4 separate regions of the Homo sapiens genome follow, and regions 2, 3 and 4 are each linked to region 1. A link means that fine-mapping ties the variant in region 1 to the plasma level of a protein whose gene starts in the linked region. Region 1 holds a variant in brackets. A gene starts in each other region. All regions are shown on their reverse strands. Region 1 holds the start of LOC101928844 (a long non-coding RNA gene). Region 2 holds the start of MUC2 (mucin 2, oligomeric mucus/gel-forming). Region 3 holds the start of C6orf58 (chromosome 6 open reading frame 58). Region 4 holds the start of IL19 (interleukin 19).

The links. PIP is the posterior inclusion probability: the model's chance that the variant is causal. Protein levels are from antibody-based Olink assays in UK Biobank. Linkage for the fine-mapping came from a reference panel and not from the study's own genotypes, which makes the PIPs less certain.
Region 2: MUC2 starts here. The variant in region 1 is fine-mapped to the plasma level of the MUC2 protein (UK Biobank, PIP above 0.99).
Region 3: C6orf58 starts here. The variant in region 1 is fine-mapped to the plasma level of the C6orf58 protein (UK Biobank, PIP above 0.99).
Region 4: IL19 starts here. The variant in region 1 is fine-mapped to the plasma level of the IL19 protein (UK Biobank, PIP 0.99).

What each region holds. Positions count from the first base shown.
Region 1 is chr19:5,846,821-5,849,566 of GRCh38, reverse strand. All of the region lies in intron 1 of FUT3 (fucosyltransferase 3 (Lewis blood group)), which reads left to right. It overlaps LOC101928844 (a long non-coding RNA gene), which reads right to left and starts at 2,100. Exons shown (of 4, transcript NR_110740.1): 1 at 1,799-2,100. The variant A/G (reference allele first, on the strand shown) is at 1,578.
Region 2 is chr11:1,073,422-1,076,167 of GRCh38, reverse strand. It overlaps MUC2 (mucin 2, oligomeric mucus/gel-forming), which reads right to left and starts at 1,294. Exons shown (of 58, transcript NM_002457.5): 1 at 1,191-1,294; 2 at 247-517. The coding sequence starts at 1,266. It overlaps LOC107987157 (a long non-coding RNA gene), which reads left to right and starts at 2,734. Exons shown (of 5, transcript XR_007062544.1): 1 at 2,734-2,746.
Region 3 is chr6:127,575,619-127,578,364 of GRCh38, reverse strand. C6orf58 (chromosome 6 open reading frame 58) reads right to left here and starts at 1,191. Exons shown (of 6, transcript NM_001010905.3): 1 at 879-1,191. The coding sequence starts at 1,179.
Region 4 is chr1:206,768,728-206,771,227 of GRCh38, reverse strand. IL19 (interleukin 19) reads right to left here and starts at 455. Exons shown (of 7, transcript NM_153758.5): 1 at 150-455. IL10 (interleukin 10) reads left to right here. Exons shown (of 5, transcript NM_000572.3): 3 at 169-321; 4 at 1,334-1,399; 5 at 2,500. RefSeq lists enhancers at 105-294, 1,855-1,964.

The sequences.
Region 1 (2,746 bases):
GAAGGAGTGTTTGTCGTATAGAATTATTGGTGATGGCCTGGATGCGGTTTTGTATGAACTGAGAAACTAAACAAAAGAGTGGCTGCCAGGTGAGTTGAACAGTCTGATTTTCATTGGGGGTCCTTCACAGATGGGACATGGCTTAGGAGGAATCCCGGGCTGCGGGCATTCCTTGGCCCGGTGGCCAGATTTCCAAAACTTGTAGCAAGCTCCTGGGGGAGGAGGTTCTGGAGGAACCCCTGGCAGCTGCGGTTCAGGCGTTTGGAGTTCTTGTGTTCTGGAGATGTGGCTGGGGTTTGTCTCACGGTGGAGGCAAGGAATTGCAACTCAGAAATACATTGCTACGTGGCTGCCTCTACTCTTATTATTGTACACCTTGAAGGCGAGGTTAATTAAGTCCTGTTGTGGGGTATGAGGGCCGGAATTTAATTTTTGGAGCTTTATTTAATGTCAGGAGCAGATTGGGTAATAAAATAAAATGCATTTTGAGAATAAGACGGCATTGTGACCTTTCAGGGTCTAGGGCTGTAAAACATCTCAGGATTGCTGCCAAATGGGCCATGAACTGGGCTGGGTTTTATATTTGATGAAAAAGAGCCTAAACGCTAACTGATCTGGGAGAGGTCGGATAAAGAAAAAGGAGCATTAACCTTGACTGTGCCTTTAGCTCCAGCCACCTCTTTAAGAGGAAACTGTTGGGCAGATGGAGGAGGGCTAGTCACGGAAAGAAACTGTAAGCTGGACTGGGTGTGAGGAGGGGAGGTAATAAAAGGATTATAGGGTGGAGGAGCAGAGGCTGAGGAAGAATTGGGACCTAGCTCGGCCTGGTGAGGAGCAGCCTGGGAAGGAGGGGAGAAGTCAGATGGGTTTGTAGAAAAGGAAGATTCAAGACTCAGCAACGCTTGGGGTTGGAACTGAGGGGACAGGCAGGAGGGAAAGAAGGAAGATTTGGGATGAACTGCATTGGGAACAGAGACTAGGGAGGGACCGATGTATAAAAGAATGCCTGAACGTCAGGCACCTCAGACCATTTGCCCATTTTATGACAAGAATTATTTAGATCTTGTAGGATGGAAAAATTGAAAGTGCCATTTTTTGGCTATTTGGAACCACTGTCTGGTTTGTATTGGGGTCAAGCGGCATTGCAGAAGAAAATAAGACATTTAGGTTTTAGGTCAGGCGAGAGTTGAAGAGGTTTTAAGTTCTTGAGAACACAGGCTAAGGGAGAGGAAGGAGGAATGGAGGGTGGAAGGTTGCCCATAGTGAAGTAGGCAAGTTTAAAGAGAAGGGTAGAGACACGGAGAGAAGGGGTGGGGGATGCTTATCCCCCAGGAAAGTGGAGAAGGGATGGGAGGTGCTTGCCCCCCAGGAAAATGGAAACGGGGTGGGGGGTGCTTGCCCCTCAGGAAAGTAGAGAAGGGGTAGAGACACGGAGAGAAGGGGTAAGGTGAGCAGCCAAAGCAGGCGTCCCTGCAATTGACTTGCCACCAAGGGATGTGGGTGAATGACCAAGGCAGGTGTCCCCGCGGAGATCAGACACAAATGGAATGTGGGTGAATAATCAGGCAGTCGTCCCC[A/G]CAATGATTAAACACCAAGGGAAGGCTGCCTTCCCAAGTCCGTGACCGGCGCCAGAGTTTTGGGTCCACGGATAAAATGTGTCTCCTTTGTCTATACCAGAAAATGAAAGGAATTTAAATTAAGAGAAGGGAGAGATTGAAGGATGGTGCCAAGATTGAAAGGAGAAAGAGGTTGAGGGATAGTGAGAGAGGTTGGAGAAGGAGTAAAAGAGGCCACTTACCCAATTTAAAATCAGTGAGATGTTCCTTGGGCTGGTTGGTCTGCGGACCTGAGGTTGTAGGTGGATCTCTTCAGGGAGTGAAGGTGAGGACAGGGGACTGCTGTCCCGAAGGAGTCCCGCTGACCCGGGTCTTCGGCACCAAATGTCTCATGCGTCCGTGTGAAGAGACCACCAAACAGGCTTTGTGTGAGCAACGAGGCTGTTTATTTCACCTGGGTGCAGGCGGGCTGAGTCCAAAAAGAGAGTCATCAAAGGGTAGTGGGATTATCATTGGTTCTTATAGGTTTTGGGATAGGCGGTGGAGTTAGGAGCAATGTTCTGTGGGCAGGGGTGGATCTCACAAAGTACATTCTCAAGGGTGGGGAGAATTACAAAGAACCTTTTTTTTTTTTTTTTTGAGACGGAGTCTGGCTCTGTCGCCCAGGCTGGAGTGCAGTGGCTCTTTCTCGGCTCACTGCAAGCTCCGCCTCCCGAGTTCAAGCCATTCTCCTGCCTCAGCCTCCGGAGTAGCTGGGACCACAGGCGCCCGCCACTACGCCCAGCTAATTTTTTTTTGTATTTTTAGTAGAGACAGGGTTTCACCGTGTTAGCCAGGATGGTCTTGATCTTCTGACCTCGTGATCTGCCCGCCTCGGCCTCCCAAAGAGCTAGGATTACAGGCTTGGGCCACCGTGCCCGGCCTACAAAGAACCTTCTTAAGGGTGGGGGAGATTACAAAGTATATTGATCAGTTAGGGTGGGGCAGAAACAGATCACAATGGTGGAATGTCATCAGCTAAGGCTATTTTCACTTCTTTTGTAGATCTTCAGTTGCTTCAGGCCATTTGAACGTATATGAGCCGGTCGTAGGGGATATGATGGCTTAGCTTGGGCTCAGAGGCCTGAAAATCGCCCCCACCAATCACCTGTTTCCCCCAATCTACCCTCCTGAAGGTCACTGACAAAGAC
Region 2 (2,746 bases), not on the chromosome of region 1:
GAGGGGAGGGGCTGTCAGGGACACACAGGCAAAGGGATAACTGAAACCCCTTGCCTATGGGGGGAATGGTGGGGGCTCATCAGTGTTTGTTGAATGAATTAGTGACCTGAACCCAAACCTCAAGGCTGTTCTCCTGAGCTGTGTGCTGGGGCGGAAGGGGTCTTCTAGGGCTACAAGGAATATCCCTTTGGGAAACATCAGCCCCCGTTGCTAGGATGTGGGAGGGGTGCCACCGACCACACTCACACGGCCCCGTTAAGCACAGCCAGGTGGCGGGTGAGGTAGATGGTGTCATCCTTGATGGTCAGCAGGATGGACTCCACCCCGGCGGGGGCCTCAGCCTGGCCCGGACCCCGCTTCAGGTGCACAGCAAATTCCTTGTAGGAGCCTCGGCAGTCGGAGGCGAAGTTGTAGTCGCAGGGGCCGGGGAAGCGGAAGACGTCCCCGTCGAAGGTCTTGTAGTGGAAGTTGCCCCAGGTGCTGCAGACGTTGTGGCCGTGGTTTCGGGTTCTGCCCTCTGAGGGAGCAGCGGGGAATGAGGGGTGAGTGGCCCCGGAGGGGGAAGGCTGCCCAAGCTACCCTCGAGAGAAGGCCCCTGAAGAAGCACCTGGAAGCAGCTTCGAGCCCAGCACAGGGCCCCTGGCCGGGAAAGGTTCCTTCCTATCCTCGGGCCCTCTGCTGGGCCTTGGTCACCCCACCACAGGGGTCTCAGGGCTTCTACCCCCGGCCTGGTGAGGAGTGCGGCCGGGTGCCAAGCGGGATGTAGGAGAGGGCATTCTGGGCACCCCGCTCCCCAGCAAGGGCTGTGCTGCCCCAACTCTTCAAGGGTCTCTGCCACCTGAGAATGGGGCCTTCTGGTGGGATCCTGGCCACCCCTTCCTCCCCTATGGACAATGACCCAGTTCACTGGGGCCTGACCTGCTGTTTCCACCTGGTGCTGGCCCCAAGACCCACACTGTCGTCGGGCAGTCAACCCCAAAGGAATAGCAGGGGAGCCCCGACCTTCCAGCTCCTTGAAAGTCAGCAGGGCCGGGGGCTTCCAGGGACCAACCCGGGCCAGGAGCCTCAGCAGAGCCGCGCAGGCTGCACTCTGGGACCAGCTCCTCCTCCCAGACGCGACTTGCCCGCCCGCCTCGCCCTGCCCCCAGGACACTCTGCCAGGCCCCAGACCCCTGTGTCTGCTCTCTCACCTGTCTGGAGCTCCGAGCCCCCTGCCAAAGACAGGGCCAGGCACACAGCCGCCAGGCGGGCTAGTGGCAGCCCCATGGTGGCTGGCAGGGGCGGTGTGGGTTGCGCCCGGGGGCAGGGGTCTGGTCCTTATATGTCCTGGCAGGAGGGTAGGAGGGCAGGAAGGCAGGGGAGGGCCAAGGGTGGGTGTGGCATCTGCCAGATGATCAAGAAGACAGCTGCGGGGGCCCGAGCCCCAATGGGGAAATATTGATTCAGGTTATCGGAGGTCATCTCTTTATGGCTCCCTGGGTAAACGCAGCCTTCTTCAGGATGAGGCAGCCCTGTAGCCTGAATGCCAACACACACCCGGGGAACACATGCAGCTACTAGAGGGGCGAGCCCAGGGTGGCCGGGGGAGGGGTGTCCTGCCAGAAGCAAGTCTGGTCAGGCTCCTTAGCCCGCCATGGGCCCCCAGACACCCGCTGAGCAGGTCCCCAGGCCTGATCAGGCTCACGTTACGCTGGGAGGACCAACCCATTCCTGGGGCCCAAGCTCTGGGGCAGCTTCCAGGCCTGACCCCAGAAAGGGGCCTCCCCGAGGGCAGGGAGGATGTGGGATCCTTCAGGGTCCGGGGGGGCCACTGACTTGTGTGGGACTCTTGGCCGGGCTCATGGAGCTGTGTCAGAGGCCCCAGCCCCCAACCACCCCCTATGCCCATCCTTTTCCCAGGCTGAGCCCTTCTCTGCAGTTACATGTAATTAGAACTTGGGGAGTACATGCCCAGCCAGGGGACATGTTACGGAATCAGGCACACAGGGAGCTGGCTGGTGGCCGGAAGTGGCCGTCTGCCCCTTCTCCTGGGGACCACATGAGGACCTCGGGCCTGACAGCTGAGGAGGTGACAGCCTGCCCAGGCTCCCCAGAACTACCTCTGACTCATGGTGGGGATCCTGCCCCCAAGGCTGTGCCTTTGATGAGCCTTGGTCTCGCCCACCAATCCCAGCAGTTGTCTGGAAAAAAGCCTGGAGAACCGGAACTCACACCGACCCCAGACTACGAGACCACTGGGCCCACCACTGCTTGCCCCGGCCCGGGAGGGCACAGGCAGGCACCCCTGTGTCGCCAGTGGGTAAACTGAGGTCTGGGGGCCCTCCCCTCTCTCTACAATTTTCTCCTCCTGAAAATAGAGAGGGGCCCTGAGTTGAGTTCCTGGCTTTGGCCTGAACATGCCAGGGACATGCCGGCAGCATGATGGCAGTGGGGAGGGACTCACCCCAACAGTTATAGAGACTCGGGGCCCAAAGCACCAAGCCTGTTTCCCTGGCTGACCTGCTGCCCAGACCCAGGGCCTGGGACGAAGCCCCTCCCGCCCTCCTGCGGTGCCCGCCAGCACCAGGCCCCAGGGTCTGCGCTCCCTGCCAGGACCTGGGCACGTGGAGGAAGCTCAGTGTGTGGCCCCTGCCAGGAGGACCGGGGATTAGGAAACCAGAGCCAGCTGGGCGAGGCCAGAGGAGATCATTGTTCACTTCCTGGTGTGGGCCTCCGCACACTGGCACTGAGCCCTGGGGAAACCCAA
Region 3 (2,746 bases), not on the chromosome of region 1:
TCGAGAGTCAAAACAAACCCCTGCTCTACCACTTACTAGCTTGACTTTATCTAAATAACCTCTAATGCCTTAGTTTTCTCATCTATGACATGGGGATAATAATATTAACTACATTATAAGGTTGTGATGTGAGGTGAGAAAAAGCACCAAAGGTGTTTCACCTGTAATATGCATTATGTAAATATTAGAAAATAATCATTGTTTTTCTTCCAAATGAAATTGCTCTTTTCTTAACCTCTCTCTCACACACAATAATTTCTTTATTGGCTGTGTCATCAGCAGGGAGTGGGCAACAGGCACCACTCTTTCTCATGAGCTTCTATCAACCAGAACAAAAGTATCTTTCAATTCATGTATATTTTATCCCAAAATGTAACTTCTGTCTATACACTGTAAGGTACCTTATTTCCAAGAGGAAGCAAACATTTTACAGAGAAAGATCTTCATGAACAATGTGATGCTTCTTTATAACCTCATATCATAATTAGAACTTCAAGAAATTCAAACTAATTGGACATCACTTTGTATATCCCCTTGACTGTTTTGTTCATCTCATTGCTTAGAAAGGAGTGTGGCACTTAGTAGAACTTCAACAAATATTTGTGAAATGCTCAATAGATGAGATGTGATGTCTTTTCACAGTTGATAACTATGTCTTATGCCTCATTGAAGCTTCTAATAATAACACACAACCCACAAAAGAAGGATTTGTGGATAAGGAGAAGGATAGGTAGAAAAACAATGATTATAAGGGAAAAGAGAACAAGATAAAGAATCAATTTTTAAAAACATAGTAGGGTATATACAGAGTCCAATTTCCCAAATACTTCATAGGTCTATCGGTAGATCATTACAATGAAAACAAGAGTCATTCTTACCTGTCCTATATTGCCAGCCATACTGCAGAGGCAACCCCCATAAAATATTCTGTTCATTATCTGGTGCAAATTTTGCAAAATACCTGGCTGTCTGATTCAATATGATTTTATACATCCCCATTCTCTCAAGGTATACCCAGGGATTAATAATGTACATGCTGTTCTCCACCCTGTAGTCACTGAGCTGACCAGGACTCTCCTTCCACAGAGGGGGCTCTGTCTCTGAGAGATTGGAAGTCCCTGCTAAGGAAGCAGAAAAGGAACCAACTAGTACACAAACCCAGGAAGGAAGAAAAGCCATTGTGCCAGAGCTGGGGATTGCGATCGTAGCAGGGCTTTTATTGGAGAATGGAAGAGGAAGTCATGATATTTGCTAACCTCACAGCATATCAACACTTTGCTTTTTTGTTTTCCTGGATAGGGTGAAAATGTAGAAGAAATTGATGTATTAGCTAACATTTAGGACAATTAAATTTCCCAGACTCTTCAGCGTCAGAATACTGTGTCAGAACCTAAATACAAGGTTAGGCTTGTTTATAATGTATTAGATAAAACTATTTATCAACAAAAACCTTCCAGAAGTTTCCCAGGCTGCATTGTGATTACAAAATACATCACAAATGGCTTTAGAATGCTTCCCTCTAATAAAAATACTTTAACATATTTCATGGAAAATATTAAATAGCTGGAGATGGAAATACTAGGATTTATAATAATCTTCAAATGTGTACTAAAAATATGTGTGATCCAGTTGTAATACAATGTTCTGCTTCAAGAAAGAAGCTTAAAGAATATCTAATTAGCTCAATTCAATAATGAAAGTCAGCCTGCTGGAACAAAACCTGCTAGTTAATTCTTAATATCTATTTTTCATTCTTTATTAGTAAAAGAATCGTAGAATTTTAGCTGGGAATATGGTCTCCCAGAATTAAGGCTAAATTTCCAATTTGCTTTACACAAGCAACCATGTGACTAAGTGTGGACCACAGAGACATAAATAGAAATAGTATCCACAATTTCTGGAACATGTCCTAAAATGAAGGGCACATGTCAATTCCTCTTCCCTTCCTCCATGTTGTGGCTTGGATTATTGATGTGATGATTGAAATTCAATTCTGACCCCTAAACGCAAGGCACTATCTTAGGGATGACAGAATGCAAAGCTGGAGGTGGCTTGAGTCCCAGAGGGCTGTGGAGCCATGAGATGTCCTTGAATTCCTATATCTGAGTTTTACCTGAGCAAGAAACACCCCACTCTCTTGTTTCAACCACTGTTATTGAAGTTTTATTCACACATAGTAAAAATTCTTGCCTTATTAATAGGTAATGCATCTGAAAATCTCAATTATTTACACAATTAGATGCATATGCTTCATAGTAGGTCACTGGTACTGCTTGTTCCTGGCATGGTCCACATTAAACATCCTACAGCATGATTCCACTCTTTTTTCCTGTCATATTATTTACCCAATAGCCATTTGATAATTAATAAATTTTCCAGATATATTAATATAAAAGGGAATGGTAGGAATTGCTACTATAGATCAAGAATGCAATCATTCTGGAAATTTTAAAAGTATATTAAATGTTTATAAGAATATATACGTGAATATGTACTGTAAGATGTGTTACTCTAAAACCAAATGCCAGATTGTTCTCAATGGAGAAATCTTAAGAGCACTCCTTTAAGGTCAGAAATAAAATAAAAATGACCACCAGCATTATAATCATTTAACTTTTCTTTGAGGATACCAAACAATAAAGTTAGTAAAGATAAATAAATTAGAGGTATAAAATTGAGAATGAAGATGTGCTAGTACTTTCCCTTATAGATGATATGACAGTGTTCAGAAAACATAAGAGAATAA
Region 4 (2,500 bases), not on the chromosome of region 1:
TCAGCACATCCAGCAGCCAGAGGGTTTACAAAGGGCTCAGTCCCTTCGGGGAGGCTTCTGGTGAAGGAGGATCGCTAGAACCAAGCTGTCCTCTTAAGCTAGTTGCAGCAGCCCCTCCTCCCAGCCACCTCCGCCAATCTCTCACTCACCTTTGGCTCCTGCCCTTAGGGTTACCTGGGTTGCCAAGCCTTGTCTGAGATGATCCAGTTTTACCTGGAGGAGGTGATGCCCCAAGCTGAGAACCAAGACCCAGACATCAAGGCGCATGTGAACTCCCTGGGGGAGAACCTGAAGACCCTCAGGCTGAGGCTACGGCGCTGTGTAAGTAGCAGATCAGTTTTTTCCCTTGCAGCTGCCCCCAAAATACCATCTCCTACAGACCAGCAGGGACACTCACATCCACAGACACAGCAAAGACACAGACTGGCAGAGCTAGCTGTAAATGAGGAAAGACTCCTGGAGTCAGATCTCTTGCTCATTTCTCTTTGAGCAGGCGTTGGGGGTGGCTGCTAGGCATTTACATGTGAAATTTGCAAACAGCTTTCCTGTTATTTGTGAGTCATTTGTGGGTTATTAACTACTCCCCTCTCTCTTCATAAAAGGAGCCCAGAGCTTCAGTCAGGCCTCCACTGCCTCTTTGTAACTAGACCCTGGGCGGGGAGCTAAGGTTCCCAAGCAGAGGAAACATCATTCACCTCTTTTAATCTCAATGTTTTGAAAGCAAAGCTCTAAGAAGGGCCCAATTGACTGACAGGATTTCCCCTGGCATTTTAGAAGGGACAAGGGGGCTATTCATCCCCAGGCTAGTGTCTATGAGTAATTCCTCCAGGTAATTTATTTCTCCAACTGAAATGATGCCCTCACTACTAATGGTTTCCCCTGTTCTGTCACCAATATTGGAAAATCAGTTGGTGTCTATTTGTAGGACAAGGCTATGTGAAGGGTTTGGTCCCAGTAGCTTCCCTCCTCAGATGCTTAGAAGTGTTCCTCGGTGGCTGTGACTGACGGGGAGGAACAGGAGAGAGAGGCAGAAAAGGACAGGCTGAAGAATGCCTCGCTCAGCACTGCAGGAGATACTGTAGAGTTCTGGGGGAGGAAGGAATCCCAAGACCTGGGTTGTCATCCAAGCCTTGCAAACATCTTGGAGTGAGTCCTGGAGAAATACATTTAACTCCCAGGGCCATGGAAGCAGGGCTCAGTTCTCTCTGGGAGCTGTGAGGCAAGGCATTTGGATAAATCTGGCCTCCTCATGATGCCACCAGCTTGTCCCCTAAGTGTGATGGACATGGAGCTGGAAGCCAGGATCACCAACACTTTCTCTTTTCTTCCACAGCATCGATTTCTTCCCTGTGAAAACAAGAGCAAGGCCGTGGAGCAGGTGAAGAATGCCTTTAATAAGGTGAGCTTGGATGGTGGCAGAGAGGGTCTGCAGAGCACAACCCATGCCCACTCCCCAACCCCAAAGCATGGAAGGTGGTGGGGACTCAATAGGCCCCATTCTTCATTGGAGAGAGTGTGGGAACCTGACAGATGGTATGACCTGCTCAGCCAGTGAGGAGCTGCTGCCTTGATTGTATTTGTTTTCTGTTAAGTGTCTTTGGGGGTTTCTAAATGACTGCTCGCTGCCTTTGCAGGCTTGCGGGTTAGGCTGGCCGGCCAGCCTGTGAACACAGTGAGCTGCATGCTGGGGAGAGTGACAAAGGAAACAGAAAGTACAGAAAGTAGCTTGTTGGGAATCTAGGCTGAACCCACACGTGCAGGAAGCTGGCACATAAATGTGCACATACAAATACACCTGGGGGTTCAGCCCAGACTCCCCAGAACTCAGAATGAGCAGGAAGCTGGATTCTCACTTAACCTGGAGTTGGTTCAAGCCCGCTTTCCATCTGCCCTTCGCACCTGCGGAGGTGCCTGAGAATGTCAGTTCCCAAACGAAATGGGGTTTCACACTTCCAACTGTGCGTGAACTTTTTCAGTCTGATTTCCCAGAAACCGTGCGGCCTATGTCCTCCTCGTGGGCTGGGGACAGACACTGCACAGAGTGCCAACATCAGGGGGTGTGAATTTCTCATAGTAGGTCAGGGCGGCAGGGCAGGGCCTGCTCAGTGTGTTGGTGGGAGAACACAGACATTTAAAAGGCTCCCTCCTCTCCTCTCACCGTCTTGCTTTCGAAGCGCTTCCTCTAATGTCTTTTCATCAAACTCTGCATAATCATCATGTGAATACGTGACCTTTAAAATTGTTGAAAAGGCATCATTTTGAAGACAGTGCTTTGCAAAATGAATGCTCCCCTTGCTAGGGGGAGGCCTGGAGGAGATGAAGGTCAATGCACAGCCTTTCCCAAGGCAGCTAGGCCTATCCTCTGGTTTACTTCCCAGCGTGAGGGAGAACAAGCAACCTCTGCACTCAAGGTCATGCCCATCCATGAGCATGAGGGAGGGGAGCCTATTTAGTCCCCAGAAAGGATTTTAACTGTATGTTTCTTATCTCTCTGCACAGC